6 separate regions of the Homo sapiens genome follow, and regions 1, 3, 4, 5 and 6 are each reported to be linked to region 2. The links are microRNA targets in miRTarBase. Many come from high-throughput screens and were not tested one by one. Region 2 holds a microRNA gene; each other region holds the end of a gene's coding sequence.
What was found. The annotated mature microRNA hsa-miR-181a-5p reads AACAUUCAACGCUGUCGGUGAGU and lies in region 2 at 2,720-2,742, shown strand. An mRNA with a match to its seed (bases 2 to 7 or 8) in the 3' UTR can be bound and repressed. Matches are read on the target gene's strand: a 7mer-m8 pairs with bases 2 to 8, a 7mer-A1 pairs with bases 2 to 7 and ends in A, and an 8mer does both.

Region 1 (5,076 bases), not on the chromosome of region 2:
AGGAATCCTGCAGGCTGGGGTGAAGGCCCAATGTCACCTGGTGACTTGGAGCCTTGGGAGGGGCAATGGAACAGTCACTGCCCAGTTGGGCTCAGTGCCCTGGAACTCGGCAGGGGTAGGTTGGGGTCAGGGGGCAGTGTCTCATCTCCAACCATTTTCACCCCCATTCTGATGTCCCATTCCTGGGCATCTTTGGCTTTAACTGTAACCCACAGTCATTTTCTCCATCTCTTTCTTTTCACAGGAAGAGTTCTGCTCTTTCCAGATCAATGAAGTTCCCTGGGAGGATAAAATTTCCATTCTGAACTACAAGTGCCGGAAAGTCTAGGGGTCTGTGCAAGGCCTGTCACACTGACCACCTCCTACTCCCACCCCCTGTAGTGCTCCCACCCCTGGACTGGTGGCCCCCACCCTGGGGGAGGTCTCCTCATGCGCCTGCACCAGGAGACAGACACAGAAGGTGGCAGGAGGCCTTTGTTGCTCAGCAGGAGGCTCTGCCCTTGCTCCTTCCTTCTTGCTTCTCATAGCCCCAGTGTGCAGTGCACACTCTCCCACCTCCTGCAATTAAACAGTAGCATTGCCTCCCTCTGAGTTCTTGGCTGTTTGGGGATGTACACACAGGCAGGGTTTCTGCAGTTCCTTTATGAAGCCTCCTTGTTCTGCTGGCCCCAGAAGTTGGGCTGCTGGTTTGGTCTGAGCTCCTGGTCAGACCAGGAGGAGGGGGCTGGCTGTGTCCACAGGCAGGGGCCAGGCCTCAGTGGAGCTCGCCAGGCCGTGGATTCCATCTGTGCTTGCAGAGTTGAGCAGACTCCAGGGACTGAGCTGCTCTCATCAAATCCCCTAGACACTAAATAAATAGCGATCGATGTCTGCTTCTTTCCACAAGAGACTTTAGGCCCTTACATGGAAACAAGTCCAAAAGTGTGTATGTGTATGTGTAACTGATTGGGAGAAATGCCAGCCAGACCAAAGATGGGCAAGATCTCACAGAGAAAACAGTGCCTGCTGTCATCTATCCTGGGAAGGTGTGCCCCAGGGTGGGAGGTTTTGTCAATTCACACCCACCGGCCCATTCTCTGGACTTGAAGTTTTAAAAAGTCCTCATGTCAAACTTTATATTAGGGTTAGAGAAGTTAAAACACAAATGGGACTGGCATGAAGTGGACTGTTTTTTTCCAAGGATGATGTTCCAATTAATAAAAAAAACTTAGTGTCATCATGATTCATAGAATAGTAGATATTTGTGCCTCAAGCAGGAGGCTACACTCCTAAGTCACATGGCCCCAAGCCCACACGGTCCTTCTCTTTGCTATTTTAGTTCAAAGAGAAGGGGGTGCAGCCCTCAGGACAGGTGCCTCTGGCCCAAGGCTCTGAAATGTCTTCCTCACTCAGAGCTGCATTGACCAAGGGTGGCTGCCATGAACACTGAGAGGGAAATGACAAAGAGGAAGCTGCTGAAACAGCCCTGAGGCCAGCACCCACCGTGCTGCACCTAGGAAGCCAGGAGGAGAATGGTCTGGCAGGGAGAGTGAGCAGCATCTGCTTCCATTTCCTCTCCACCCCCATGGGATTTAACTGAGTCTGTGATGTGGGAAGTGTAGCAGCGCCCAGGCAGCCATGAGCGGGGGAGTCAAATCTGGGCCTCATCCTCTCAGTGGAGGGTGCACTTAGTGATTCAGGCTTCTACTGGGAGAGAGCGGCTGAGGGCAGAGCAGCAGGTGCACAGATGTTGTGGTTGGGGGCAAAGTCTTTCTTGCACGGAAGTGCTCATAATTTTCCATGTGGATGAAGGGTTTATTGACCAAAGGGACCACCATCCAGGCACACAATGAACAGCTGATTTTTTGAAAAACAGTCCCTTTCTGACACAATTCTATCTTCCTTGGGGAAGATGGTGTGACGTCGGGGTTCTGCACAGGACTCCCCCGACTTTTCCCTGTGTGTCTGCTCCCTTGGAACAGAGCAGGATGCGGGGAAGCTGAGAGTGAACAGGTCCATCTTCTGGGCACTGAGCTGTGTCCTTGGAAGAAGCTAAAGAAGGTTCCTGATCAGGTCATGTTAAGTGTCTTCTAAGAGTTCCTTTAGAAAAAATCATGCACCAGATCAGAGGTAAAAGATGGAAACTGCAGAGGTTGGAAACCCCTCACCCAGCATAGAGAAATCACTCTGGAAGGAGGGATGAGTGCATCGGAGGCCTGGGAAGCATGAGACGGCACAGTCTTTCCTTGGGCAGGTGGACTCTCTTCATGATCACAGGCAGACCAGGTGCTGCAGGGCCTGAGGCTCATACAATATGGGGGCTTTATGTATGAAAAATAGAGCAATATTAGCAATACAAAAGAAAGCACAAAAGTTAATGTTTATTTGGGAAAAGAAAATAAATTATGGCAAAATACTCACTTTTTAAAACACTGAGATATACTGCAAACAGCCACAAACTCCAGAAAATAACAGACACCCACAAAATCCAGAAAATAATCAGCCACCAAGTCAGTACTGTAGCCAACACACTCAGTATTGGGTTGTTGCAATAAGGGAATAAAGTCACACAAGGATCCTCACATGATTCAACAAACAAAGGAAAAAAGGTTATCACAGGATTGGAGGAAGGGATTTTGAAGGTGTATTGATGCACTCAGAGCATGGCAGGCTTCTGTGTAAAGGAGCCAGGGTCAGGTCTGGGCTGCAAATTGTACTCAGCTCCTCCTATCTCCTCAGCTCCTCCTATCTCCTCAGAACCCATAAGGTTCAGGCAAATGTGGAACGTTCTGTCCAGAAACCCCTTCTCTGTAGCTCTGTGCTTCTGTGTAAAGGTGGACCTAGATCCTCCAGGCAGTGGGATGTTCTTCTTACTCATAAGCAAAGTTTCTGACAGCCCTGACGCTAGAGAACAAGGTCTTCCATTGAGTCAGAAAGCAGTTGTCAGCCAAGGAAGAAGCTGCTTGACATTTCAAAGCTGCAGCTTGAGAGAAACATTGTTTCCCGTTCATGATGCCACTGGCTTTGACCACATCAGTCCATCTATCCACCCTGCAGATGAAAGGGCAGATTTGCCCTCCCTTAATCCACATGATCTTTACTGTCTCATATAATGTTTTTGTTTAATTAACTAGTTGACACAACTCTGTAATATTTTCTGCCTATGTTTCCATATTCAGCTAATGAATCACTATTTGCCTCATCATAAGACATTGAATTTGTACCAGAACTTTTATAAATATAGCAGAAAGATAAACCAGTCTTTCCACTAACTGTTTGATGATCTGTGAACTTAATGGTACATAACATCCTTTTTCTGCTTCAAAACTCATATTGGTAATATCCTGCAACCTTTCCTGATTGTTGACAAATTCGTAAAAGCCTCTTGCAGTTTCCTCTCATTTGTGAACTCTAAGATTTTAGTGCTTTCTAAATTTTCTAGACATAAGATTGATGATCTTAAAGACTCTTTGTATTAACAATGCTCACTAACACAGCATTTTTAAACTGTCACTGTTGTGTAGTGAGCTTCAAAATTGTGCAAATGTATCATGATGTGCTATATTGATTAGCTCATTGAATGTGCAGGAGTTTGTCCTGGAAAAAGTATCTCTTCAAGTCATCTCACCTGTTGGTCACAGTTTTACATCTGTGTTGCCTGCAGCTGGGAGCCAACAGAATAATCGGGGAGGGACGTCAGGCCCGCCCCTCCTGTCTGTGCCACTCACACACACATGGGCAGACTCCAGTATTCTTGCATAGTGCATGGGCAAAGGAGGACGTGAGGGAGGAGACAAATCCACCAGCCACAAAAGTAGAAGGAGACTTGAAGAAGAGGTGAGGGAAGGAGAAACCATGCAGAAGAAACTGCAGAGGCCTTGGGACCTGCTGAGAAGCTTTCAGCCACATGTAAACTAAGTCCCTAATTAAAAATGTCTTGAATGCAAAGGGAATGTTCTACTCTCATGATAAGAAGCCCCTGGGTGAGGCAGGCTTCAGGAACAGAACTCCCAGCATATGCTCTGCTTCCTTGGGATTCTCTCAGCCTTACCTTCCTGTTCTTGAAGCTTCAGCCTCAAGCTGGTAGCAAGGTGGTTGCAACAGCTCCAGACATCACATCATCAACACCAACATCCAGAGGCAGAAAGAGCCCTGGGAAGAGCCTCTGTTCCACACCTCCTTCCTGAATGTGAGGAGGCTCCTCCTATGCACCCCCTAGCTCACCACCCCTGCAGTCTCATTGGCTAGGGCTGGGTCATATGCCCACCCCCTACACCAATCCCTGTTAGGAATTCACATCATCCATTGTGTCACCAGCACTCAGTGAAACCTGTGGATAGGATGGCAGCATCCTGGTAATAGCACAAACTTCAGCATGATCAAAATGATGACATGACTGCAGAGGGAATAAATAAATTATGCATGCACATGATGAAACCATCGTTAAGAAGAATTAGCAATATATGTGTTAAAATGAAAAAAAATTTTAATACACTTTGAATATATTATTTTATAGAAAACAAGATCTATATGGTATGTTAATACAAAGCTCTTTCCAAAAACAAAAATAAACACATGTGTGTATGTGTGTATATAGACATATACACAGACATATACACATATGTATACACAGAAACACATCTGAGGGAAAGAGAGAGAAAGGGAGAGAGGATGAGAAGGGAGAAGAAAAAGAAAGAAGAGAAGAATTTTGCATTTTTCTGTTTCATTTGAATGTTATTACAATGTCACGTTGTTCTAATTATTCTAATTATTTTAAATGTCATCCATGGGTGTTTGGGTGATGATATGGGTTGTTTTTCATTGTACCCTCCCTATGTCTGCATTTTAAAAACTAACAAATGCTATGGCTGAATGTCTATTGGTGTGGTTGATATGCCTGCATATGCTTAATAGCACATTAATTATGAGTGAATCAGGAGTTGATATTCAGCATCAGGGGTTTCCCCTGCCCCCTGAGTTGCAACAGTCATTTAGAATTCAATACATTTTTTCCTTGTTTTTCATGACACTGAGTATTTCTGAATAGATCCTCTCTCAGCTACACTGTGAGCTCCTGGGGAAAAGAGGGTATCTTTG
Region 2 (5,076 bases):
TCACTTAAATTAAATACAGATCATCAAACAAGATATATAATCTATTCCTAAAACAGACAACTTCAGCATCCCAAATCCCTATGGCTTTTTACTGAGGCACATTGCACTACTTTTTTATGTTCCTCTGTCAATTCATGTTAGGGTTTGCTTTGTTTAAAAGTGGTATTTCATGTATTTCGTGACCCTCTTGCACAAAGCAAAAAAATTGCTTTGGTTTATTTATGACCTACTAACCTTAAGCAAAACTGAAATACTTAATGTTCCCACAAGCCTAGGGATGAGAAATGAAAGCTACAATAAATTTGGCTTTGATGCAAATTAGATTGGTTTTATCCTACCCACACAGCCCTCCAAAATTAGGAAGAGGGGGATAAGAGAGTATTTATGCATTAATGACCTATTGCTTGTGACTTTTTTTCATTCAAGGAAAACTATGCAAGAATGCATATTGCTACCACCAACTTGGAATTCTGGAATTATGAACAATGTGTTCTAAAAAATTGCCAGAAAATGTGAAATCTCAGTACCATTGCATCTTAATATTTTAAAGATAAATGATTTATAACTAAGGATTAAGTTGTGAAAATAAAGATGGAAAAGATATAGGATTGGAAGGTACATGACAGTAATTGCAAGACCATATAAGTGAGCAGAAAACTAAATTGCACCAACAAGTAGAACGATTTTTCTGTATTGCTCGAAATAATTTAGAATATAGAGCCTAAAGTTTACTATCTTCTCTGACATTAGATTAATTGGAAGCAAGAACACAGAGATCCTATTTTCCATTGTGGAGGATTTAAACTGTTAAGATATGAGGTTTTATCTTTAACAAACTATGACTATGATTAGCCCAAGGAAAGAAAAAATAATTAATCACTTTATTTATCATTGCTATTTTATGTGTAAATAACAAGACATTTAATGTAACTTCTATTGTTTCAAGTGAATCATTATAAGATTTTTAAGAATTTTAATGTTAAATCAATTATAGTTAAGATTTTTATTCTAAGAATGTAACAACTTTAGGATTAAGTTAATTGTATTCTTCCAAAGACTTCTAGGAGAATATTTTGGAAAACAAAAGATAACATAGTTATGCCTTTTAATTATTTGTAACTGACCTAGAGCTTTGCTTACTGGTAGGCCAAATGCATTTTGTGTTAAGGGAAAATACAGAGCATGGAGTCTTTTATCACAACATCCCTATTATACAAACGTTAGCAGATGTAGCAAGAGATGAATAGGCATGATTGAAAACAGTTGTATATTGACCTGACACTAATACCACAATAGGCAGGCAACAGAACAGGAGTGATATGCTTTCAGTCGTAATTGATAATGCAAACAAATGAATCCTCAGTCTCATGATAATATTCTTTCCAGCAGCAACACAGAAATGCCTACTGATAAAGCATTCTTCTAGGGTTTTATTCTGTGGGAGAAATTTGCTTCTTTCAAAAGAATTAAACAATGCAAAATTCAGATACATCACTGTTTCATATTCTGTGCCTATTTGTCACTTTAAAATTTACTTCCAGTTGATCTCTAGTCCCTGTTTCTCTCAAAAAAAATCTGTTGAAGTTTTCATGTAAATAGTTTGTCTAAAAGGTTAAACAATTATTGGCTTTAAAATAATTCTAAGTGACTGAAATGTAAGAATGTGTAAAAATTTGGGATACATATTTCACTAACATTTCGAGAGTAATTGCCTTGACTTGAATAGACCATTATCACCTTCAAAGTAGCATTCCAAATTATTGTGGGTTGTCCCTCCTACAGATAATTACTCTATAACCATATTAGATGCAACTTAAATGTGTGAAATAATGACTTTCTATTCTGGTTTAGATACATCCAAGGTGACTTTTGTTTTAATTGATGGTAGAAAATTATTGAAAATGGCTCTAAAAATAAATTCAGTAGAGTTCATAATAATTTTAAAATAAGCATTAATGATAAAACAGTCTTAGAAAATAAGACTATGAAAAGAATCCCTCACCCATCTACCCATAAAGAGATGTTAGATGTTAGATGTTATTTAAAATAATAGGAAATGAACGGTTTTGTAGCATACATAGATTGTATTTACCTTTCACTGTATTCATGAACTCTTTGTGCCATAAACTAAGAAAAATGTATTGAGCTGGTTTCTTCACTTATAATTTGTTCAGCATTTTCTAAATAAGATTGTTCTTAGGAAGTTATACTAATTTTAAAACCTTATTTTAGAATAAAATATAGTAAATATATAATGTAAATATAAATGATATCATCAATGCCAATTTGAGGAAATCTAAGGTAATTCTGTTTAATTTCTGTATAAGCTATATACATAATGCTTGCTTACTATAAGCGTAACAATATTTAAATTATAAGATATTGTTTGGATTTTATACCACAAAGTACTTTGAATAACAAATTGTCCCTGTCTTTAACAGTGAGATAATTCCATCTCTGGAACTAGCCCAATATCGGCCATGTTTTTGCTTAATGAAACCGATCCTTTTCTCTCATACAATGTGATGTGGAGGTTTGCCAAACTCTTTGTTGGAAGAATCATGCTTCTTATTTGTCTTCTTTTGTAGTCTTTTGAAATGGCATAAAAATGCATAAAATATATGACTAAAGGTACTGTTGTTTCTGTCTCCCATCCCCTTCAGATACTTACAGATACTGTAAAGTGAGTAGAATTCTGAGTTTTGAGGTTGCTTCAGTGAACATTCAACGCTGTCGGTGAGTTTGGAATTAAAATCAAAACCATCGACCGTTGATTGTACCCTATGGCTAACCATCATCTACTCCATGGTGCTCAGAATTCGCTGAAGACAGGAAACCAAAGGTGGACACACCAGGACTTTCTCTTCCCTGTGCAGAGATTATTTTTTAAAAGGTCACAATCAACATTCATTGCTGTCGGTGGGTTGAACTGTGTGGACAAGCTCACTGAACAATGAATGCAACTGTGGCCCCGCTTTTTGCTGTCACAATCAACAGATATTCCATCTTTGAAAGATGTGTTCAAAATAGTACTATTGTTCTTTAAGTTTTCCAATTCGTCAGCATCTTCTGGTTTATTTATTCAATTTATATCATGTGATGAGATTTCAATGAAAAAGACTCTGGTTTAAACAAGAATAATGCTTCTCTATCTTTTGTATGCTATAAACAGAGCATGTTTTAGAAAAGGCAAAACTATTTTGTCCATCAAACGTACAGTATCATCATCTAGGTTAGCTCACCTTCCTACTGTTGTAGTGTGAGTGAAAAAAAGACATAAAGTAGGACCTCAGCACCCATGCCATTGACAATAACACACTTACAAATATGTGTTCTTTACAACTTTTGTTAGATGTTCTGGTCAAAGTGGGATAGAAACACCAGATAATTTTAGCTTTCTGCTTCTCTGGGTGAGGATTTGCTCATATAATTCTGCCTCTTGCTATGTAACATGCTAAATACGAAGAAAATAATATATACATAACTATATAACTATCAGAACACTCATGACAGTCATATAGTAGATTGATTTTCCCAATTCAATTTCCACTTTAAAACTTTACCCACTTTCTATGTGCATGAACTGCGTGGTTAGACTTACAGTCATGGCCCATTAATTGCCTCATGTTTACTCATCTGACTTTGCAAGTAAAAGCCTATGCATATCATGGTTTTTCTTAAGTGGTTTGCCTCTGCATTTTTATATAGGACATCTGTCATTAAATTTGATCACAGCAGTTTTAAGTTTACCATTTGTAATGATAATAATTATATAGCAAAATAAAATGCTTTCTCAAGTGTCTATGTTTGGAGTACCTGGATGGCTTCAATGTTCATTTTTTTTTAATGGTCAAATAAATTATCCTTTCTTTTCCTTGATCTTTTAAATCCCATTTGCCTTTAACTCCCATTACAGAAACCCATTGCTGGGACCCGGCTCTTGACCTCATCATAACCTTAAAATATTTTACCACATTCGATATCTAATATCCCACTCTGTCTATCACTTCTTACCATTCTAGTTTCTCATTCTCTTATCTCCAAGGCAACTGTCCTTTCAATATCAGTGTTGCTGAAAAATAAAATCACATCATCATATGGACACATTAATACACATACTCAGGGGCCTCCAAGTGCCTCAGTCCCTCAACTCTGACCCAGCATTTCTTCTACTCCACTCCCTCATGTTTAGCCTAAATGTTTACCTCTTTCCTCAACTGCTCCTTTCCACGATTCCACTCTCAACAGATGAACTGACTTCTGTTTTTCATTGAGAAGCTTGAGTCCATGTGATTATTCCCTCCACTTCCTTGTTTATAGCCTATGAATGCGTAGGATTCTGCCCTGAGTTGTCTCACGTGAGCCTCCTGCCTTGCTTGGGACATCTCTTCCCCTGTGATATCCCCCTCCTCTCTCACCATCTGGCTCCATTTCACATGTAACAAGGTTCAGTTTTCTCTCTTCTCAAATAGAAAACAAAAGAAATTTGAGAAAAACTTCTCTATACTTGCTTTATCCTCAAGTTACTTACCCCACTTCTTTTCTTCTTTTTAAAAGCTAAGATTTTAGAAATAGTACATAGTAGCCTGCAGCACTGTCTATATTTGTTTACTTCCCATTTCACCTCAACTATATGTAATTTGGCATCTTCTACCATTTCTCTCTCCCACTTGTGCATAACATCATTCTAATGACACTGCTTTTCCCCAAATCACCAGTGAGCTCCATATTGCCAAATACAAATCAAACTTTTCTGCCAGTTGTCCTACTCGAACTCCCCTTGATGCCTGACACAGCTGACCACTTCTTCCTAAACTCCAGTCCCCATTCACTTTTGTGATCCTACTCTCATTTGGATTTCTCTCTTTATTACAGTGATGTCCTATTTATTTATTTATTTTTAAGAAGCTCTTCATCTGCTTGAACTCCCAATGCCAGTATCCTTCTGAGACCCATTCTTAACTTTATGGCTTTTTTTCTCTTCTCTTGTCTCACAATCTTTGAAGGAATCTCAGGCACGTGAATGATGTTTACATCTGCTCAGATGCTGCAGATACCCAAGTCTTTATCTCCAGC
Region 3 (5,076 bases), not on the chromosome of region 2:
CTGCATCTGCCACCAGTGTTTCAGGCAATCCTTTGTTAGCCAATGGACTACTTCCAGGTGTGGATCTCACAACTCTTCAGGCCTTACAACAAAACCTACAAAACTTGCAGTCACTGCAAGTAACTGCTGGGTTGATGGGAATGCCTACCGGCCTTCCTTCTGGAGGAGAAGCTAAAAACATGGCTGCTATGTTCCCCATGCTGCTGTCAGGAATGGCTGGATTACCAAATCTGTTGGGCATGGGAGGACTCCTGACAAAGCCTACGGAATCTGGGACAGAAGACAAAAAGGGAAGTGACTCTAAGGAGTCAGAAGGAAAAACAGAAAGGACAGAGAGCCAAAGTTCAGAGAATGGTGGAGAAAACTCTGTGTCAAGTTCTCCTTCCACATCCTCTACTGCTGCATTAAATACAGCTGCAGCTGCCAACCCATTAGCTCTTAACCCACTATTACTATCTAATATACTTTATCCAGGGATGCTTCTCACTCCAGGCCTTAATCTTCATATTCCAACTTTGTCCCAGTCCAATACTTTTGATGTACAAAACAAAAACAGTGACTTAGGCTCGTCTAAGTCTGTAGAAGTAAAAGAAGAAGATTCCAGAATTAAAGATCAGGAAGACAAAGGAGGAACTGAACCAAGTCCTCTCAATGAAAACAGCACAGATGAGGGTTCAGAGAAAGCTGATGCTTCATCTGGATCTGATAGTACATCGTCGTCATCTGAGGATTCAGATTCTAGTAATGAAGACTGATTCCCAGACTCTGCACTTAAAATATGAACTGATTTTGGATTTTTTCTTTAATAATTAATTGTAAATACCCCAGTGTTGAGTGCATCAATAACTTACTGACCGAACATTTCAGTTATTTGTTTAGAAGTGCAAACTGCTTTCAGAGACTTTTTGCATGTAATATTTCTTAAGATTCATAAGTTTCTGAACTCGTATGTACTATCAAATACATAAAGGTGTAAAATTACAACAAAAGGCATTATAATTTTGTTGGGGGTTAATTTTATGAAAATTATGCTCAATAAGAGTTGTATATTTAATATATTTGCAGTGAACACAGAATACTTTATGCATATTACTGATTTAATTTGAATATAGTTTTACAGCCTCCTTGACACCTATAATTTACAGATCAAAACTCAGCAATAATTTGGGCAGCTAATGAATGTCATGAAAGCTGTAGAATCTACATCACCATCCATTGCTTTAATTACATGAAAATGCTCTAGTGTTGTGATGCACTGCTGATGTTTCCAATTCAGGTACAAGTATGTTTTAAAGAAGAAATAAGTTTCCCAATCAGCCAATTTAACTGGCTACCTGTTACCTCAGCTGAGTTAGTTTAGGAAGTTTACATTCGTTTCTAATTCTATACTTGTTTTCAGGGGTTTTTTAAACACATCCTATATATCATGTCAATCTGGCAAGAAATATGACTTGCTTTTTGCTGAGCTTAATTCAGATATCAGTAAAATTAAGTCATAAAATAATCATGTGTCATGTGACTTTGGCACCCTATAGACATACTTAGTTTTAACTTTTCAAAGTTTGGCCTCCTATTAGAAATAATCATGTCTCAGATGAGTAATGTCTGTTTCCAGGGTTCAGAAAAGGCAAACTCATGAAATGCCACTGAAAAGAACTTTCAACACAGCATACTTCATGTAAAAGAAATTGTTTGTTTGCTTTCTTTGTGTAGATTTCTATTTGTGTTTTATGTCATGGAAATATTCCAGAATTAACAGATAATAGTGGTAAAGTAATATGCAGATAGTCTAAATTCATTTTGAGTTTCTAGGTGTAAGCAGACTAAATGTTGCCCAGAATCAGTGTTGGGTTATCAGTTTATATTAAATATACTGAGTTGCCCGTTTTGAAAATGCACTTTGAATAATCTCAAAAAGATGTACAAGTTATACCTGTAAACCACAAAAGTGAAGCCTGAGGCTTCTGTTCAATTTCATAGACTCCTTTACCATGTAAAATTTGTCTGATATTTGATTTGTGATACAATTTCTCCTGCTAAAGCTGCTATTATTCTGACAAGGTAGAGGTCCAGGTTCACCTTTATATATATTTAAAACAATTAGTACTGAATTGGACATAAAAATATTGACATTCTAAGGAGAGATATATGTTAGCATTTTTCTGGTACTCAAATAAGTTAGTAGTAAAGTCTGCAAGGGCATAAATTTAGGGGGAAAAAGTGTCCCAGTTCTCTCCTACAGAAAAAATACTTTCAGTATGTTTTGATAAAACTGTTGCTTTGTCATGAGTTAGTCAATTGTATCAGGTTTTCCAAGACCTTTACCAGTAAATTATGTTTCTGTATGTAAAATAACCCCTTATTAGAGAGACAGTGTTATATGTATTTACAAAATTATATAAGTTCCATTGGGATTGTATTGATTTTGTATTTTCCCAAAATAGTACTTTGAATTGATAGTCCTTTATGCAATGTCTTAGCAATAGTCTCTATAATGCCCATCCAGGAGAAGTGGGTAGTAATTCTTCATCATGAAAATGATATATTACATATTTAGTATCTTCCCTTTGCAGTATTGCACTTTTGTTTAACTAGAATACACCTATGAGATAGCCAAAGTTTCAAACACAGTTATCTTAGTTTACCGGTGGAGTATTTCAACACCAACCACATTTCCCTTCCTCCCTCTAATTCTACCCACATGATCTTTATTCCTTCCTTTCGCCAATTAAAAAAAAAAAAAAGGAAAAAAAATCTGTAGATCTTGTCACTAAAATCTAATTTATATCAAATTTATGAGAGAAAGTATTTTCCTAATTATGGTCAAATAAATTTGGTTAACATCCTAGTGATTCTCTTTCTATATAATAAGGCAATTACAGTTTTCAAAGCATTAAGTCTAACATAACTTTAAACATTCTCTTAGGTTTCAAGACACTTCTATTTAATATTCATTGGGGAAAAGTTGTCCAGCTATCAGCTAAGAAAACACATGCAAATATGGTTGTGTAAAGTTAAGGGTTATAAGGAAAAAAAAATCAGTAGAATTACATAATACTAAAGTTGCAGTTGAAAGAATATCCAAGTATGTGTTGGTAGTTACTAAAAGAATTATAGCTGTTATTGCCTTGTATTTATAGCCCTTGTTTCAGGTTTTATGATTCAAGTCTTAGTCCAATCTTTCTTTTGGACATTTGCAATATTTACCAGTTGTGTTTTGTGTAGTCTGAATTTGCTTTCTGTAGTTGAGCAAACGTCTTAAAAAGTCATTTGTAATTTATTAAATTACTTTCTATGATGTTCTATAGAGCAAATGGAAGTTTAATTATTTTTTATTAAACATATTCTTTGACTACCCATGATGTCAGCCTCTGTACATGAGAATACTTTTTAAAATTGAATTTTATATAGAATTTATCTTATTCCAGTTATGAGAGACACCATAGTTGTAAATCTTTAAAAGGAAAATATACCGTGGAAGAATTTTTAAAACAAAAATTGGCTATAATTTTATCCACAGTATCTTAAATGCTGTCAATTTTTCATTTTGATTTAATTTTATTAATATTGTTCATTGTGGATATTGGTGACTGCAAAAAAAGCAAAAGCTGCTTCTTGGGCATTCAAATTGTTAAACCCCAATTTTGCAGCCCAATCTCAACTTCATGCTGAACATTAAGTATTATTTTCTTAAGTTTTTGGACTTTTAAAAAACTCAGAAATACTCAGAGATATTCCTCACCTCTTTAAGAAGTCCATTTTGGAAATCAATAATTATTTTTTTCCCTTAGTCTTAAGAGTGTTTCCTAACTCATTGCCATGGGTAGTGTTCTTCGTAAACATTGAAGAAAATAGTTTTTCCTCTAATTACACAACTAAAACAGTGGAGTCTCATACTCATTTAACTTGAACACATTCAACTACACTTTCATGTTTAGAAAACCTTTTTTTCATTTTTGTACAACATAACATATAAACACAAACCAACTGCTTCATCTAGTACTCACCCAGAGGAACAGTAGTCTGTTCCAGTGTTGGAGGAAGAATTGCCTATGTTGGACATTTTTGAGAAGAGATATGAGGTATAAAATGATGTATTCTGTAATTTGTGAGCTCTGTGAGAGAAAAGAGTGATTTTTTTTTTTTTTATAAAGACAAGGTCTTGCTCTGCCTCCCCTAGGGTGGAGTGCAGTGGTGCGATCACAGCCCACTGCATCCTTGACCTGTTGGGCTCAAGCAATCCTCCCTCCTCAGCCTCCTGAGTAGCTGAGACTACAGCATGCATCACCACAACGAGCTAATTTTTGTATTTTTTGTAGAGATGGGGTTTTGCCGTGTTGCCCAGGCTGATCTCAAACTCCTGGGCTCAAGCAGTCTACCCATCTCGGCCTCCCAAAGTGCTGGGATTACAGGTGTGAGCCACCACACCCAGCCAGAAATGATTTTTGACTACACCTAATATTCACTTTATACAATAAACTTAGAACTTAATCTCTATATAAGCTATTTATTTTAAAATTCAGAAAAGCAAAAAAATATTTAAATCATTCATAAACTAAAACTACCCAGAGATAAACACTGTCAGTAATATATTCAATCTTTTGTATATCTATGTTATTTACATGTAGTGGGTTGAGTAGTGTCATTCAGAAACTGATGTCAACCTAAAACCTCAGAATGTGGCCTTATTTTGGAAATCGGGTCTTGGCAAATGTAATTAGTTGTAGTCATGCCGGATTAGGGTGGGCCCTAAATCCAATGACTAGTGTCCTTAGAAGAAGAGCAGAAGATACTCAGAAACACTGGGAAGGCTGTTTTGTGATAAAGGAGACCGGAGGGATGTTCCTACAACTAGGGAACACCAAGGATTGCCAGCAACCACCAGAAGCTAGGAGAGAAGTAACAAGCATTCTCCTTCATAGCTTCCGGAAAGAACCAACCTTGCCAACACCTTGATTTGGGGTTTCTAACCTGAACTGTAAGAGAATAAATTTCCATTGTTTTAAGTCACCTAGTTTGTGGTAATTTGTCATGGCAGCCCTAGGAAACTGATAGCTTTTCATATTAACTCAGTGT
Region 4 (5,076 bases), not on the chromosome of region 2:
TAGGAGTATTAACTATCTGTTTTTGGAAAAAAAAAAAAAAAAAAAAACTAAGTTGTGGACCAGTTGCTAATTAAAAATTTAAAATTTCACGAGATGAAATATATAAGAATGAGAAAACATTAAGTATGAATAAAAGATTTTGGTGTATGAGAGCTCAATGTGAATTCATACTTAGCAGAGAGAATTTCTGCATTTCTTAGCCTTCTTATCATACAGGATGCCAGATTAACTATATAAAAACTCAGTTGCATGTTGCCTTCTGGGTGAAACATTTTCATTACTTGTCTAAATCCAGCCCCAGTCTTGAGACCAAGGGCCACTCGGCAACACTGATTCTACAAGTTGATAAACTGCAAAGTTTCTAAACAATGATAATTTGCCCGATGAATAGTATCTAGCAAAGACAGAAAATGATCCTCAGACCCCTTTTTCCTTTATTTGCATTAGAAATGTCCAGAAGGAAGACCGCACTCCTATGGCTGAAGAATACAGTGAATATAAGCACATAAAGGCGAAACTGAGGCTCCTGGAGGTGCTCATCAGCAAGAGAGACACTGATTCCAAGTCCATGTGAGGGGCATGGCCAAGCACAGGGGGCTGGCAGCTGCGGTGAGAGTTTACTGTCCCCAGAGAAAGTGCAGCTCTGGAAGGCAGCCTTGGGGCTGGCCCTGCAAAGCATGCAGCCCTTCTGCCTCTAGACCATTTGGCATCGGCTCCTGTTTCCATTGCCTGCCTTAGAAACTGGCTGGAAGAAGACAATGTGACCTGACTTAGGCATTTTGTAATTGGAAAGTCAAGACTGCAGTATGTGCACATGCGCACGCGCATGCACGCACACACACACACAGTAGTGGAGCTTTCCTAACACTAGCAGAGATTAATCACTACATTAGACAACACTCATCTACAGAGAATATACACTGTTCTTCCCTGGATAACTGAGAAACAAGAGACCATTCTCTGTCTAACTGTGATAAAAACAAGCTCAGGACTTTATTCTATAGAGCAAACTTGCTGTGGAGGGCCATGCTCTCCTTGGACCCAGTTAACTGCAAACGTGCATTGGAGCCCTATTTGCTGCCGCTGCCATTCTAGTGACCTTTCCACAGAGCTGCGCCTTCCTCACGTGTGTGAAAGGTTTTCCCCTTCAGCCCTCAGGTAGATGGAAGCTGCATCTGCCCACGATGGCAGTGCAGTCATCATCTTCAGGATGTTTCTTCAGGACTTCCTCAGCTGACAAGGAATTTTGGTCCCTGCCTAGGACCGGGTCATCTGCAGAGGACAGAGAGATGGTAAGCAGCTGTATGAATGCTGATTTTAAAACCAGGTCATGGGAGAAGAGCCTGGAGATTCTTTCCTGAACACTGACTGCACTTACCAGTCTGATTTTATCGTCAAACACCAAGCCAGGCTAGCATGCTCATGGCAATCTGTTTGGGGCTGTTTTGTTGTGGCACTAGCCAAACATAAAGGGGCTTAAGTCAGCCTGCATACAGAGGATCGGGGAGAGAAGGGGCCTGTGTTCTCAGCCTCCTGAGTACTTACCAGAGTTTAATTTTTTTAAAAAAAATCTGCACTAAAATCCCCAAACTGACAGGTAAATGTAGCCCTCAGAGCTCAGCCCAAGGCAGAATCTAAATCACACTATTTTCGAGATCATGTATAAAAAGAAAAAAAAGAAGTCATGCTGTGTGGCCAATTATAATTTTTTTCAAAGACTTTGTCACAAAACTGTCTATATTAGACATTTTGGAGGGACCAGGAAATGTAAGACACCAAATCCTCCATCTCTTCAGTGTGCCTGATGTCACCTCATGATTTGCTGTTACTTTTTTAACTCCTGCGCCAAGGACAGTGGGTTCTGTGTCCACCTTTGTGCTTTGCGAGGCCGAGCCCAGGCATCTGCTCGCCTGCCACGGCTGACCAGAGAAGGTGCTTCAGGAGCTCTGCCTTAGACGACGTGTTACAGTATGAACACACAGCAGAGGCACCCTCGTATGTTTTGAAAGTTGCCTTCTGAAAGGGCACAGTTTTAAGGAAAAGAAAAAGAATGTAAAACTATACTGACCCGTTTTCAGTTTTAAAGGGTCGTGAGAAACTGGCTGGTCCAATGGGATTTACAGCAACATTTTCCATTGCTGAAGTGAGGTAGCAGCTCTCTTCTGTCAGCTGAATGTTAAGGATGGGGAAAAAGAATGCCTTTAAGTTTGCTCTTAATCGTATGGAAGCTTGAGCTATGTGTTGGAAGTGCCCTGGTTTTAATCCATACACAAAGACGGTACATAATCCTACAGGTTTAAATGTACATAAAAATATAGTTTGGAATTCTTTGCTCTACTGTTTACATTGCAGATTGCTATAATTTCAAGGAGTGAGATTATAAATAAAATGATGCACTTTAGGATGTTTCCTATTTTTGAAATCTGAACATGAATCATTCACATGACCAAAAATTGTGTTTTTTTAAAAATACATGTCTAGTCTGTCCTTTAATAGCTCTCTTAAATAAGCTATGATATTAATCAGATCATTACCAGTTAGCTTTTAAAGCACATTTGTTTAAGACTATGTTTTTGGAAAAATACGCTACAGAATTTTTTTTTAAGCTACAAATAAATGAGATGCTACTAATTGTTTTGGAATCTGTTGTTTCTGCCAAAGGTAAATTAACTAAAGATTTATTCAGGAATCCCCATTTGAATTTGTATGATTCAATAAAAGAAAACACCAAGTAAGTTATATAAAATAAATTGTGTATGAGATGTTGTGTTTTCCTTTGTAATTTCCACTAACTAACTAACTAACTTATATTCTTCATGGAATGGAGCCCAGAAGAAATGAGAGGAAGCCCTTTTCACACTAGATCTTATTTGAAGAAATGTTTGTTAGTCAGTCAGTCAGTGGTTTCTGGCTCTGCCGAGGGAGATGTGTTCCCCAGCAACCATTTCTGCAGCCCAGAATCTCAAGGCACTAGAGGCGGTGTCTTAATTAATTGGCTTCACAAAGACAAAATGCTCTGGACTGGGATTTTTCCTTTGCTGTGTTGGGAATATGTGTTTATTAATTAGCACATGCCAACAAAATAAATGTCAAGAGTTATTTCATAAGTGTAAGTAAACTTAAGAATTAAAGAGTGCAGACTTATAATTTTCATAAGTACTTTTATTGTGTTCAGTCTGGCGTAAACGTTGAAATAGATGTTTATATTAAGTATGATATCATTATGTTTCATCTTTGAATCATTTAGTTCAGATTCACTTTCTAAGACTTGTAGGTGCAAGATTTAGGATAAGGGACAGCTTAGAAGTTTTTCAAGATGGTAGAAGTTTGTCCTGTGCTGCTTTAAAAAAAATAATAAAAATTTAAAAAGCTAGCACAATTTTGGTGACCTCCCAAATGAGGGAAAATTTCCGTGAAAGACCAAATTTCAAACTGGAGTACTAAAAATTATTTTTTTAATTACCAGCTAGGATGTTGTCAGCTGTTAAGATTTCTTCCATTTGCCTACCAGTTCAAAGTCAAAAGAAGATTATTACTCATTGCAGGGATCAGTGATGTCTCTGTAACATCAGTGTAATTTTTGCTTTGTCTCATAATTCATTGCTTGGGTGGCAGCGGAATAGCCTCTTGCAGGGTGTGCCTGCTCCCAGGTGTGACATTTCCAGCCAAGGACAAATGCCTCAAAGCTGTGTTGTGTCATAAATGCCGCACTAAGGTATCCCAAGACCAGCAGTCTTGGAACCCCGAGGGCTGAGCATTTGTAAATGTGGTTGAGCTTAGAATTCCTTATAAGGTGAATATTTAGGTTTGTTATCATCATAAAGGGATGGCCATGGTGCTAATCAAGCTGGTTCTGCCCAGGGGTTGCCTAGTTCTCAAGAGACGACAGAATTGGGCCCTGTGTCCAGAACTAATCACAGAGTTTAACTTTTTGGATAATTTTTGGTTTTAGAGCTTTTTAATCTGATAAACATGCCATTTTCTTAAGAGTAACACCTTATGCTTTTGGTGGTATATTTATTTATAGTTGAACACCATAAACTGCTAACAGCTTTGTGAAAGCTAGCTGTAGTCTAAATTCTGTTTTGCTTTCAAGAGGGGTCTTCCTGACACACTGCTTGCTAGCTTATTTTCCCCTAGTCAGGGAGAGGTGGTTTCTGCACCAAGATCAATGCCTCTGTGATATTTTTTCAGTATCCACTTAGTTAAATCAATGAGGAGGGACAAACTATACTACAGTCTTGAAGCACTGTTTCCTCTGAAGCTCTTGTGTTTGACAGAACTCAGAAAGTGCTTTCCTTTCCTTCATTAATTTCCTTTTACTGTTTTTTTTCCACTTGACACTCACTCAAAATATATACTAAAGAGTAGACTGGCTAAACATATTTTCAAATTTTTATATATTCAAATTGTGCACACTGGCTCTACTTTAAGTGGTGACCAACACAGCACACACCAAACAGAGTCACGTATAAATGCTGGGCACTGCACAGTGGCACTGGCCACTTTCCCAAGCAGAGATCACGTGTGTGCCTCAAAACACAGGTTTGGCAAATCCTCCAACTGAAAACACCTATACAGTCATGAAAATCTCCACAAATAATAGTTTTTGTAAAAAATATGGGCTCCTAACAATATTTACATGACATGTAAGCAGAAGGCATTTGAAATTACCATTGTCCTTTTTAAAAATGTAAACTGAACAAAAAACATTTTATACATGACTATTTTGTATAAATGTAAAATATTTTAAACTATGAAAGTGCTAGAATTTTTGACAGTGGCATCAGGATCAGGGTCTGACCTTTCCCTTCTTTAAGTAATCCTGTGACTCCCTGGAGCCCCTCAGAAGCCTCCTGAGGATTAAGTTTTGTTGTTCTAGCTCCAGGCAGGGCACTGGAAGGTGATGCGAGCTGAGCATACACTTCAGGCATGTCCGTTTTGCAGCTAGAAAAATGGGCTTGTGCTCTCATGGCTCAGTTGCCTTTAAAAAATTCATAGAAAGCACTGGAGAAGTGCAGAAATGAGGGAATTAAAGCAAATTTTTAAAAATTAAGTACATCTCCCAAGCCAATG
Region 5 (5,076 bases), not on the chromosome of region 2:
CATTTGTGAGGGTGTACATTTGATTGAGGCCTTTTTTTTTTCTTAACGGCATCTAATTTTCATTCCACAGGATGCATATTGGCACATAAATGTAATTGTACTTCTCATGCAAGCCACAGGGTGTCATGCCTTCCTCTCCTGTTGCCAGAAGGATCTCTGAGATCCATTTTCCGTTTGCTTAGCTGCTAATGCCATTTCTCGTTCTCCCCAGTGTTCCTGACAGGCAGCGATCGGATTCCCATCTACGGCATGGCCAGTCTGCAGATTGTCATCCAGTCCACAGCCAGCGGGGAGGAGTACTTGCCGGTGGCCCACACTTGCTACAACCTTCTTGACCTCCCCAAGTACAGCAGCAAAGAGATTCTGAGTGCCCGGCTGACCCAGGCCCTTGACAACTATGAAGGGTTTAGTTTGGCCTGAGGCTTCTCAGCTTGTCCAGTATTTCCCTTCGTTCCTCAGTGTCCACATTGAGGCCTATACAGAAAATCATGGGGAGTGATTTCTATTTTTTTATTGTCTAAGTGGGTTGGGACTTTTAAATACTGAGCCTGGTTGATGTGTTTCTGGGATTGTATAGCAGTAAACAACCTTTTTGAAAAATTAGAGGTTGGGGATGGGGTGAAAAATTGGCCCTTGTATGGGAGGTGTTTTTGTTTTTGTTTTAAACCAAACTACCCAGTATTCCTTGCACTTGTGAATGTGTTGCACTCTGCTGGATGAAATGGCAGTGGATTTTTAAACTTTAATTTCCCAAATGTCTCTCTCAGCCCTGATGTTTTCTCACAGTGCTTCCTTGTCCTTCTCTTAACTTCTCATTCCTCTATAAGAATGATTTAGACTGACCTGTCCTTTTTTATCTGCGCATGCGAGAACATCACCTTCCTCTGTACACTTGGAAATGCCTCTGGCTTGTTGCAGCCCTCCTTTAACCCAAAGGAGGAAAGGACTGCTTCAGAAACTCCCAATTCCAAAAAGCTGAGTCTGGGTCCATTATTTTGGCAGAACTCCTAAGAATTTATGGGAGCCTATATAAACATATCTTGCTTTTAAAAAGTTCTTGAGGGAATAGCAACTTTCCCATGGCTGTGCCTATTTCCTAGACCTTTTAAAAGATGTGCAGAGCAGCTTAGCATTCGTTGCAGCTGAGCCTAATTTTTTCTTGCTCATCCTTGTCCCTTTGACAATAAGGTTAATTGATAGACCCACCACCTCTTGCACTCTCGCTTTTGGAGCAAGTTGCATTAACTATTTTGAGTCTCTATATTGTCCAAGAAAAGTAGAAATAATAAATTTACTTTCCCTTTTTCTATCACCTTATGTCCTCTACCATTTTCTCCTTCCTCCCTTCCCTTATTTTCTCCTTTTCGTACCCTGTGTCCTCCCTGATTTTCCTTTCGTTTCTTCTTTATTTTATCCCATTCTCTGTTACTTGACTCAGTGCTCCCTTCCTCTCCTCTCCTTCTAGTGGATGCATGCAGCCTTTTTTTCAATTTTTATTTAAATTGCAAAATTTTTACTCAGATTTTTTTTCCTCTTCCCTAATTGCTAAGATTTAAGGACGTTCTTTATTATGAAACTTTATCACATTCGAAATGTTTGTTTACAGTGGGATTTTAGGGGGGATTGTGTTTAAATCAAATATATGTATTTTAAAAATAATGACATGCTCAACCTTCCTCATCATGGAGTAAGAAAATTCTACATGATTAAAGAATCCATGTAAGTCTAATTTTAAATTCCTAGTAACTAGAGAAAAGACTTATTTATATAAAATGAAGTATTTATGAACTGTGATAAAGCATCAAATCTTGATGAAGGATTGTAGATTTTTGCTTTTTCTTTTTGTTTTTAAAACTTATTCCAATTGCTAAATTGGTAGTTTTTCAGTCTTTATAAATACAGGATTAAAAATATATATACAGTTATATGAAATGTTTATTTTCTATGTGTGTGCATATAGTTCAATATTATGCAATAAATTTGGTGTTTTAACTTAAAACTATTTCTTATTGTACTTGCAGAATGGATAGCTTGCTTTTAGTAGAAGCATTAGGTCGTATACTCAGATAATCTAATAGAAGGTCAGATTTGATTCCTGCATAAGAAAGTAGAGCCAAGTGCTGCAGAAATGGAGAAGAAAGCAGGGGCAAGGAGCAGATGGCATTAAGGAAGAATGAAGTTTTTGAAGGTTGGGATGGACGAAAAGGTGTTTCTCATGGAGAGGGATGCTTTAGCAAAGGCTCAAACATTGGGGCATATTTAGGCAAGAGCCAAGAACAGTTTGAAGGGAACATCAGAGGAAATAGGCAAATAATAGTAAATAATGGTAAGTAAGACTTGGGAGAAAGAAGGTAGATTTGGGGCTGAGGAACTAGCCTAACACTGGAACTTTAGTAGTAGCCAAGTAGGATTTGTTTCAATGTTCAGAACTTGAGGGTGATAAGACCTGAGCCGGGTCTTAAGAAGGAAAATGTGGATGGTCTAAATCTGGAGGTATTGAGGTGGGAAGGACTGAAGCAGAAAGACAGGAGCTGAGACAGCAGTGACAGTGGCAGCAGCAGAACTAGAGAAGAGTATCTGAGGAGAGGTAGGGGGAGTGAGTGGAGGTGGTAGGAGCCTGCAGGGAGAAGGAGGCACTAAAGGTGGATCAGAGACTGGTTCATTTAGTGATTGGTGATTGTTAGGCCATTTAAGCACACCAAAAGTTTGTGAGACACAGCAAAAAAAAAAAAAAAAGAAAGGATTTTAAGTAAATTGGTAAAGCAAGTAAAATGTATTGTTTTGCCAGATTAAAAAGGTGGTTTAAAGGTGGTAAAGAGAATAGGAGCTTTCCATTAATAAGCTCCATTCAACAAACATTTAATAATCTACATAAGTGCTACATTTGAGGAGTTAAAAACAAACCCCACTACATTTAATTTTGCACAGAAATTGCCAAATTATTTTAACTAACTTTGAGGCCTCAGAATTCTCATCCATGAAATGAGATTGGATCAGATGATTTCTAAGGTTACTTTGAGCTCTAAAATTTTATAATTCCATTACTGAGAGAGTGCCTGAACATAGAGATACCCAATACATATTTCTAAAGATTTGTTGCATGAATGATATCTTATGCTGCTTCTAAAACACTATGATTTTTCTAAGATAGTTTCCTTTTCCCCTTCATTACCAATGCTTTAGAAGACTTAAATCTTCTGCATAGGCATTTCTGGATTTGCCTACCCACCTACCAACCTTCCCTCCCCTGAAAACTTTCAGATGCTTCTTCATTGTTTTAGTCATTTACCACTTTAATGAAATTATCTGGCAACTTTATTGTGGTGGGTGGGGATCAATGACGGTGTAATGAGGCAATTAGCAAATTCTGATAGTTCCATCTACTCCATGTGAAAGTCTCTTGATGTTTTATATGGTACTCTTATTAATAATCCCAGAGAGCAGGGGTTGGCAAACTATGGCCCATGGGCTAAAATGGTTTTTACATTTTAAAAGGGTTGAAAACTTTAAAACTGGAAGGATACATGACAGAGACTGGATGGCCTACAATGCCTAACATATTATCTAGCCCTTTACAGAAAACAACTGACCAATCCTTATGAGACCAGACTTGCAAAAATTACAGTAACAGAGTGAAAAACCTTCTTGAAGTGTTAGGAGGAACTTGAGTCATAATTTGATGTTGAATCAGAGAGAACAACTGTTTGGGCTTATTTGCCTCAGAGGTAAGAAAATCAAGTTTTAACTAAGATTAACCCACAGAAGTAGATATTAATACTAAGGTTTCGACCTAATAATAACTAACCTGTATTAATTGTGTGCAGTGTACCAGACCCATATGAGATCCTGCACCAACATTTGCTATGCACTAACTAGTTTAATTGCCATTACCAGGGTCCTCCTGGCTCTGCTATTTACTAGCTGTTTGACCTTGGGCAGGTTTCTTAACCTATGTCTCATTTTCTTCCTCTTCAAAATGAGAACAGAAATAGTGCCTACCTCATGGAGTTGTTGTGAGGATTAAATGAATTAATGGAAAGCATATAGAATAGCGCTTAGCACATAATAAGCTCTCAGTACTTAGAATTACCATTATCCCAGTTTTTCACATGAAGGAATTAATTAGAGAAAATAGTTGCTCATTATCACAAAATAGTGGGACCTGGACTTGACCATTAATCTGTGTTATGCCCAGCTGCTAGAGATGGGCAACAAATTGGATTAAGGCTGCTCAGTAGCCAAATAAAAAGGAATGTTGTAATGTGGCAGGTAACTTCTTTGACCACATATCTGCAAAGACATCGCACCGAGTTCCACGTATCTGCAAAGACATCGCACTGAGTTCCACGTATCTGCAAAGACATCACACTGAATTTTGTTTTGCTGCCAGTGTGCAATTCAGTAGTGATCAGTGCAGTTCTCATGTCATTTGCAGTGGGTCTCAAGTGAAGCTGGAGGTCTCTGTTGGTAGTTAGTAGCCAGGAACCAGGTATGCTTAATGCCTTGCATTGCATAGAACAATTCCTCTTTATCCTGCCCAAGATGCCAGTGGGCACTGCTATGGTCTGAATGTTTGTTTCCCTCTTAAAATTTATGTGTTGAAACCTAGCCCCCAAGATGATGGTATTAGGAGGTGAGGTCTTTGGGAGGTGATTATATCATAAGGGCAGAACCCTCATGAGTGGTATTAGTTCCCTTATAAAAGAGAACCCAGAGAGGTGCCTTGCCTTCCCTACCATGTGAGGACACAGCAAGAAGGCACAATCTGTGAGAAAGTAGGCCCTCGCCAGACACCACCAGTGCTTTGATCTTGGATTTCCCAGCCTCCAGAACTGTGAAAAATGATTTTCTGTTGTAAATTACCTAGTGTTTGGCATTTTGTTATAGTGGCTTGACTGGACTAAGACAGGCCCCTTTGTAAAACACTGAGAGAGGGATGGACTTCATACCCTTTAGGGGATCCTTCTCTGTAGAATTCTTTTTTTCAGAAGATTTTTTTTTTTCTTTTATTAATAAGCTTTTTATTTTTGAATACTTTTTTATTGGTACATAGTTGTACGTATTATGGGGTACTTG
Region 6 (5,076 bases), not on the chromosome of region 2:
TCGTCTCTAATATTAAAAATACAAGGCCAGTCACAGTGGCTCACGTCTGTAATCCCAGCACTTTGGGAGGCCAAGGCAGGCGGATCACGAGGTCAGGGTATCGAGACCATCCTGACTGACATGGTGAAACCCCATCTGTACTAAAAATACAAAAAAAAAATTAGCTGGGCGTGGTGGCACGCACGTGTAGTCTCAGCTATTCAGGAGGCTGAGGCAGGAGAATCACTTGAACTCGGGAGGCGGAGGTTGCAGTGAGCCAAGATCATGCCACTGCACTCCAGCCTGGGTGAGAGCGAGACTCCATCTCAAATAAATAAATAAATAAATAATAAATAAAAATACAAAAAATTACTTGGGCATGGTGGCAGGCACCTGTAATCCCAGCTACTCGGGAGGCTGAGGCAGGAGAACTGCTTGAACCCGGGAGGTGGAGGTTGCACTGAGCCAAGACCACACAATTGCACTCCAGGTTGGGCGACAAAGCAAGACTCTGTCTAAAAAAAAAAAAAGAAAAAAGCAATTTACTGAGCACTCGCTCTGCTAGGTACTTGGGTTTGAACCCAGGGATTCAACAGGGAATGTGCCTATTGAGCTTAGTAAATTTGGGAAATCAAACTGAATTAAATGTCATCTAGTTTCTCAGTGCCTCTTTGAGATAGACATTCTAGGGATGTACAAAAAAATGACATCTGAACTTAGGATGTAACAAATAACTATTTAATGTGAACATGCTACATACTTGAATTTATCCAGTACATTTACCTACATATCAAATTATCAAACGTCCAAAGGATTACAATCTATTTTTCTTCCCTAATGCCTTTCTTCCACATGAGCACTAAATGTCATGGTAAAGTGCTAATGATTCTCAAAATGCAAAACTTGGAAAAAAATTGTATAACTTTTTTTTTAGGAAAAGCACATAAGATAAACTTGAACAAAGTAATGAAATTATCTCCAGATTTTCTTTTTCAAGGCTGAGTGTGTGATTCACACCTGTAATCCCAGCACTTTGGGAGGCTGAGGTGGGAGGATTGCCTGAGGCCAGGAGTTCAAGACCAGCCTGGGCAACACAGGGCGAACCCCCGCCCCACCGACCTCTATGAATAATAAAAAATTAGCTGAGCATGGTGGTACATGCTTATAGTCCCAGCTACTCAGCAGCCAAGGTGAGAGGCTAACTTGAGCCCAGGAGGTAGAGGCTGCAGTAAGCCATGATTGTGCCACTGCACTCCAGCCTGGGGGACACGACAACACCCTGTCTCAAAAATAATAAACAAAATGTTAAAATTAAATTTAAAAACAGGACTGGGCAGGGTGACTTATGCCTGTAATCCCACCACCTTGGGAGGCTGAGGCAGGAGGATCACTTAAGCTCAGGAATTTAAGACCAGCCTAGGCAACATAGTGAGACTACATCTCTACTAAAAAATTTTTTTAAAAATTAGCTGGGTGTGATGCTGGACGACCGTTGTAGCCCCAGTTACTTAGGAGGCTGAGGTATTCGGGAGAATCACTTGAGCTCTGAGGTTGAGGCTGCAGTGAGCCATGACTGTGCCATTGCACTCTAGCCTAGGTGACAGAGGGAGACCCTGTCTCAATAAAAACGTAAGAAAAAAGAAAAGAAATCAGGACTTGGAATCCTAATTTGAAAATGAAACAGAACACAGAGTAAGCTACCTAAAACAGTAATAGGCTTACAGAAGGCTTTTTAGGAATTCTTGTGTGTTCTACTCATACTTGTATAAAATTTTAAGCATCTCCAAATGTTATACAGCTCTAAATAAAGTGGAGAAAAGGGGTAGCCAGGTAATTCAAATAATAGAATTTCTTTCTTCCCAAATTACTTACTGAAGCCATGAAGCAAAACTTACCTACACAAAAATCCAGAGATCTGTGATTAGTAAACATTTAAACCGTTGACAAATTCTTTCCTTGATATTCAACGGCATCCTTCCAAGAATGTGGTTAACCAATGAACTCAATCAAGTTCAGTTGTGTCTATGACTGTGATGTCTAAATAACTGAAAAGTAAAATATCCAAAATAGCTGCTTTTCTTATGCATTACACATACCCCAACATTATGCACACAGGTGCACCAACTTAGTCCATTTGTGCTACTGCAACAAAATACCTATAATTTATAAAGAACAGAAATTTGTATTTCTCACAGTCTGTTGGCTGGGAAGCCCAAGATCAAGGTGCTCGCAGGTTCCACATCAGGCGGAGGCCCCTTCCTCACAGATGACACCATCTAGGTGTCCTCCTGTGGCAGAACAACAGAACAGCAAAATGGGCCTAAGCTAGTTGCTTCCAGACCTTTTTATAAAAGGCAACTAATTCATTCATGAAGACAGAGCGCTCATGCCTTAAATCACTTCCCCAAAAGCCCAACCTCTTAATACCACCATAATGGGGACGAACACATGAATTTGGGGTGGTGGGACACATATATTCAAACTATAGCATGCACTTTTCAACATCTTAAAACAGATTCCCGTGGTCTCAAGAGGCCAGACTAGACAAAAATTAGGGCATCTCTTTGGTTACTCTCTAAAACGTTAAACTCTATACTGAGAGTGAGTGGAATACAAAAGTATGACATTTAATTAGACATTCTGCTGGCTGACACAAAACTTGCACTTCCTTTTTCATTAGCCAATAGGTACAGCTATAACTGTAGACAGAAATTATAATTAGAAATAATGAGAGCAATTTCTTGGATTACTCCACTTTTAAATTATATTTTATTCAGACTTATCCTTTGAAATTACTCATGATTAGCCTATCCTCTTCATGTGATAATTTAGGAAACCTCTCTATTGCTGTGGCATCTTTATGGAAAAAAAAAATTGTGTACATGCATACATGCAAGAAAGTTTCCTACAAACATCACAATTTAAAAACCACTCTATCCAAAAAGGCATTGTAAAAGTATAATTTTGCATTTTATTCATTCATTCCATCAGCTGGGAATTGCTCTATTGTACAAATACAGTTTTGTACAAAAAAATCACAAAATGTTACAAAATAAAAAAAGTACAAACTGCATTACTTAATAAATATGACTAAAAGTAGTTAAAGTGGCAATGAGATTGATTTTAAGTTGGAAACATTGTTTGACCCAGCAAACCATACAAGCTCTGTTTACAGACATTTCTACATCAATACAGGGCAATCCTATTTTGCCTTTTGAAAGAATGTAAAGAAATATTAAGACAGTGTTCTCCTGCTATAACTGCCAAGGTTGGCTCCAGACATTTATGCCATTAGTTTATAAATCTCTTAGCTGGATTCAAGAAGTTATATAAAGCAGGAGGCTTATCTTGTCACAGAGTTTTATACCATGTTAACATTCTCTTACAACAACGTGACAAATGTAAATAAAAACAACTGAGAGCACCAGACAATCTACTCTACACATCAACCAGGGTACAGAATAATCATTCTGCCATCAGCAAATATCAGACTTTCATTCAAGTAAGACCTGCTACTATCCCTTAAAAGAGGAAAAACAAAACAAAAACCAAAAAAAAAACACAAAAAAACACCTTCCCACAACCTTCCATTAAGTAATTTTCTTTAAAAGATTCGCCATTTCTAGAAAAATAATGACTTCCAAAACAACAGCTCTGTTTCATCAAAATGGAATGGGCCAAACATCTGGTAACAAGAATGCATCAATATCCATTTGAAATAATTATCTAAGAATTGTGAAATTCAAATTTCAACAACATAAAATAACTACCAAATCACAAACTCTGTTCAAAATAATACATTTCATATAAAGCACTTCTCTGGATTTACGCCTGAAAGCTGTTTGTCAAAATGGAACACGTCATAGATGAAGGTACACCAGTTTTTAAAAATGTTGTGCAAAAATACATTTTTATAGAAAATAGACTACCAGGAATGAACAAATTTACACTGTGAGAAATCAGCTTGCAAATTAAGTAATGCTCACTTTATACAGCAAATTATAAATAGCAGTAAAATCACCCAAAGCTATCATGAAACATCATTTAGGTGCCCAGCAACCTCCAGCTCTGAGAAAACATTCAAAAAGATGATTAAGGCATTACACCTACAGTAAAATCTACTAGCAAGTTTGAAAGTGCTATTACCCTGATTAAAGTTCATGTGATTCTCCAAACACAAGTTATATATGCAATTATTCCCAGGGTGTAAGGTTTTGAGACATTTCAAGAGCATGCATTTTGTTCAATATACATTTTAGACAAGGATATGGCCATAGATTTGGCAAGTTCTTCGTCGCGTTTCCTTTGCACTTGAGTTTGTTTGCACCAGTTGTCGTACTCTGGGTTAGGATAGGAGTGATCAAATACAGCATCATAGTGTCCGTTACTGAGCCAACTGAGCCAAATACTAGGCCTCAGGGAATCCTCTGGGCCCAAATAATGAATCATGGTAGACACCGTGGGACTCTCCAGCCTCCCTCCAGTAGTTAAATGGATATTCACATTCAGCATCTGCCCCATGGCCAGCAACTCCGGGTACCCGGCCCATGCCCCGTCTTGGGCAGCAGCGATGATAAACTCCCCCACGTCGCCCTCAATCAGGGGGCTGAAGTGGTCGAGATGGTCGGCGATGTAGTGCACCGTCTGCTCCCTCAACTCCCGGTGCAGGCTCTGGTCCCCATACACCGTCTTGCTGACAGCTCGGTAGAGGCAGTTGCCGTCTGGAATGATGTGGAATCGGTACTTATTCCTCTGCCGCAGATACTTGTCCTGCTTCTCCACCTCGGCCAGGTATAGGGCCAGCTTCTCGTCTCTGGGATCCGACCTGGAGACGATCACCGGCTCCGCCGCACTACTCGGGGCGGCCTCGATGCTCCCGGCGGGGGGTGCCTCGGCCTCTGGGTCGGGCCTCCGCGCCGCGTCCCCACCGGGCGCGTCGCAGCGATCGCCGCCCCTCTCCCAGCCCCTGGGGCCCCTCTCCGCCAAGTGCTCTTCGCCCCACGGACCGGGGCCGGGATCGGGGCTCCCCGGGGTCGCCGCGGGGCCTCGGTGCTTGGCGGCGGCCAGGGCCTGGCGGTGCTCGCTCAGTCGGAAGTT

Region 1: miRTarBase lists CST5 as a target of hsa-miR-181a-5p. The part of its 3' UTR that is shown has no 7-base or 8-base seed match.
Region 3: miRTarBase lists CHD9 as a target of hsa-miR-181a-5p. Seed matches in the 3' UTR shown: 7mer-m8 at 1,177-1,183.
Region 4: miRTarBase lists FAM13A as a target of hsa-miR-181a-5p. Seed matches in the 3' UTR shown: 7mer-A1 at 2,049-2,055 and 7mer-m8 at 2,171-2,177.
Region 5: miRTarBase lists HERC3 as a target of hsa-miR-181a-5p. Seed matches in the 3' UTR shown: 7mer-m8 at 695-701.
Region 6: the mRNA of OTUD1 is a reported target of hsa-miR-181a-5p. Seed matches in the 3' UTR shown: 7mer-m8 at 4,056-4,062.

The regions. Positions count from the first base shown.
Region 1 is chr20:23,871,440-23,876,515 of GRCh38, reverse strand. It overlaps CST5 (cystatin D), which reads left to right. Exons shown (of 3, transcript NM_001900.5): 3 at 245-582. The coding sequence ends at 328. Among named protein-coding and RNA genes, the nearest start is that of CST5, 5.8 kb to the left of the region's middle.
Region 2 is chr1:198,856,774-198,861,849 of GRCh38, reverse strand. It overlaps MIR181A1 (microRNA 181a-1), which reads left to right and starts at 2,697; the gene lies at 2,697-2,806. The region is part of intron 2 of MIR181A1HG (MIR181A1 host gene); the gene reads left to right. It overlaps MIR181B1 (microRNA 181b-1), which reads left to right and starts at 2,868; the gene lies at 2,868-2,977.
Region 3 is chr16:53,324,141-53,329,216 of GRCh38, forward strand. It overlaps CHD9 (chromodomain helicase DNA binding protein 9), which reads left to right. Exons shown (of 39, transcript NM_001308319.2): 39 at 1-3,357. The coding sequence ends at 755. Among named protein-coding and RNA genes, the nearest start is that of RBL2, 110 kb to the right of the region's middle.
Region 4 is chr4:88,724,031-88,729,106 of GRCh38, reverse strand. FAM13A (family with sequence similarity 13 member A) reads left to right here. Exons shown (of 24, transcript NM_014883.4): 24 at 448-3,147. The coding sequence ends at 574. It overlaps FAM13A-AS1 (FAM13A antisense RNA 1), which reads right to left. Exons shown (of 5, transcript NR_002806.2): 5 at 1-1,272. Among named protein-coding and RNA genes, the nearest start is that of FAM13A-AS1, 17 kb to the right of the region's middle.
Region 5 is chr4:88,706,541-88,711,616 of GRCh38, forward strand. It overlaps HERC3 (HECT and RLD domain containing E3 ubiquitin protein ligase 3), which reads left to right. Exons shown (of 26, transcript NM_014606.3): 26 at 212-1,999. The coding sequence ends at 420. FAM13A-AS1 (FAM13A antisense RNA 1) reads left to right here and starts at 3,249. Exons shown (of 5, transcript NR_002806.2): 1 at 3,249-3,725.
Region 6 is chr10:23,440,031-23,445,106 of GRCh38, reverse strand. OTUD1 (OTU deubiquitinase 1) reads right to left here. Exons shown (of 1, transcript NM_001145373.3): 1 at 2,730-5,076. The coding sequence ends at 4,204. Among named protein-coding and RNA genes, the nearest start is that of OTUD1, 3.5 kb to the right of the region's middle. RefSeq lists a silencer at 4,814-5,076.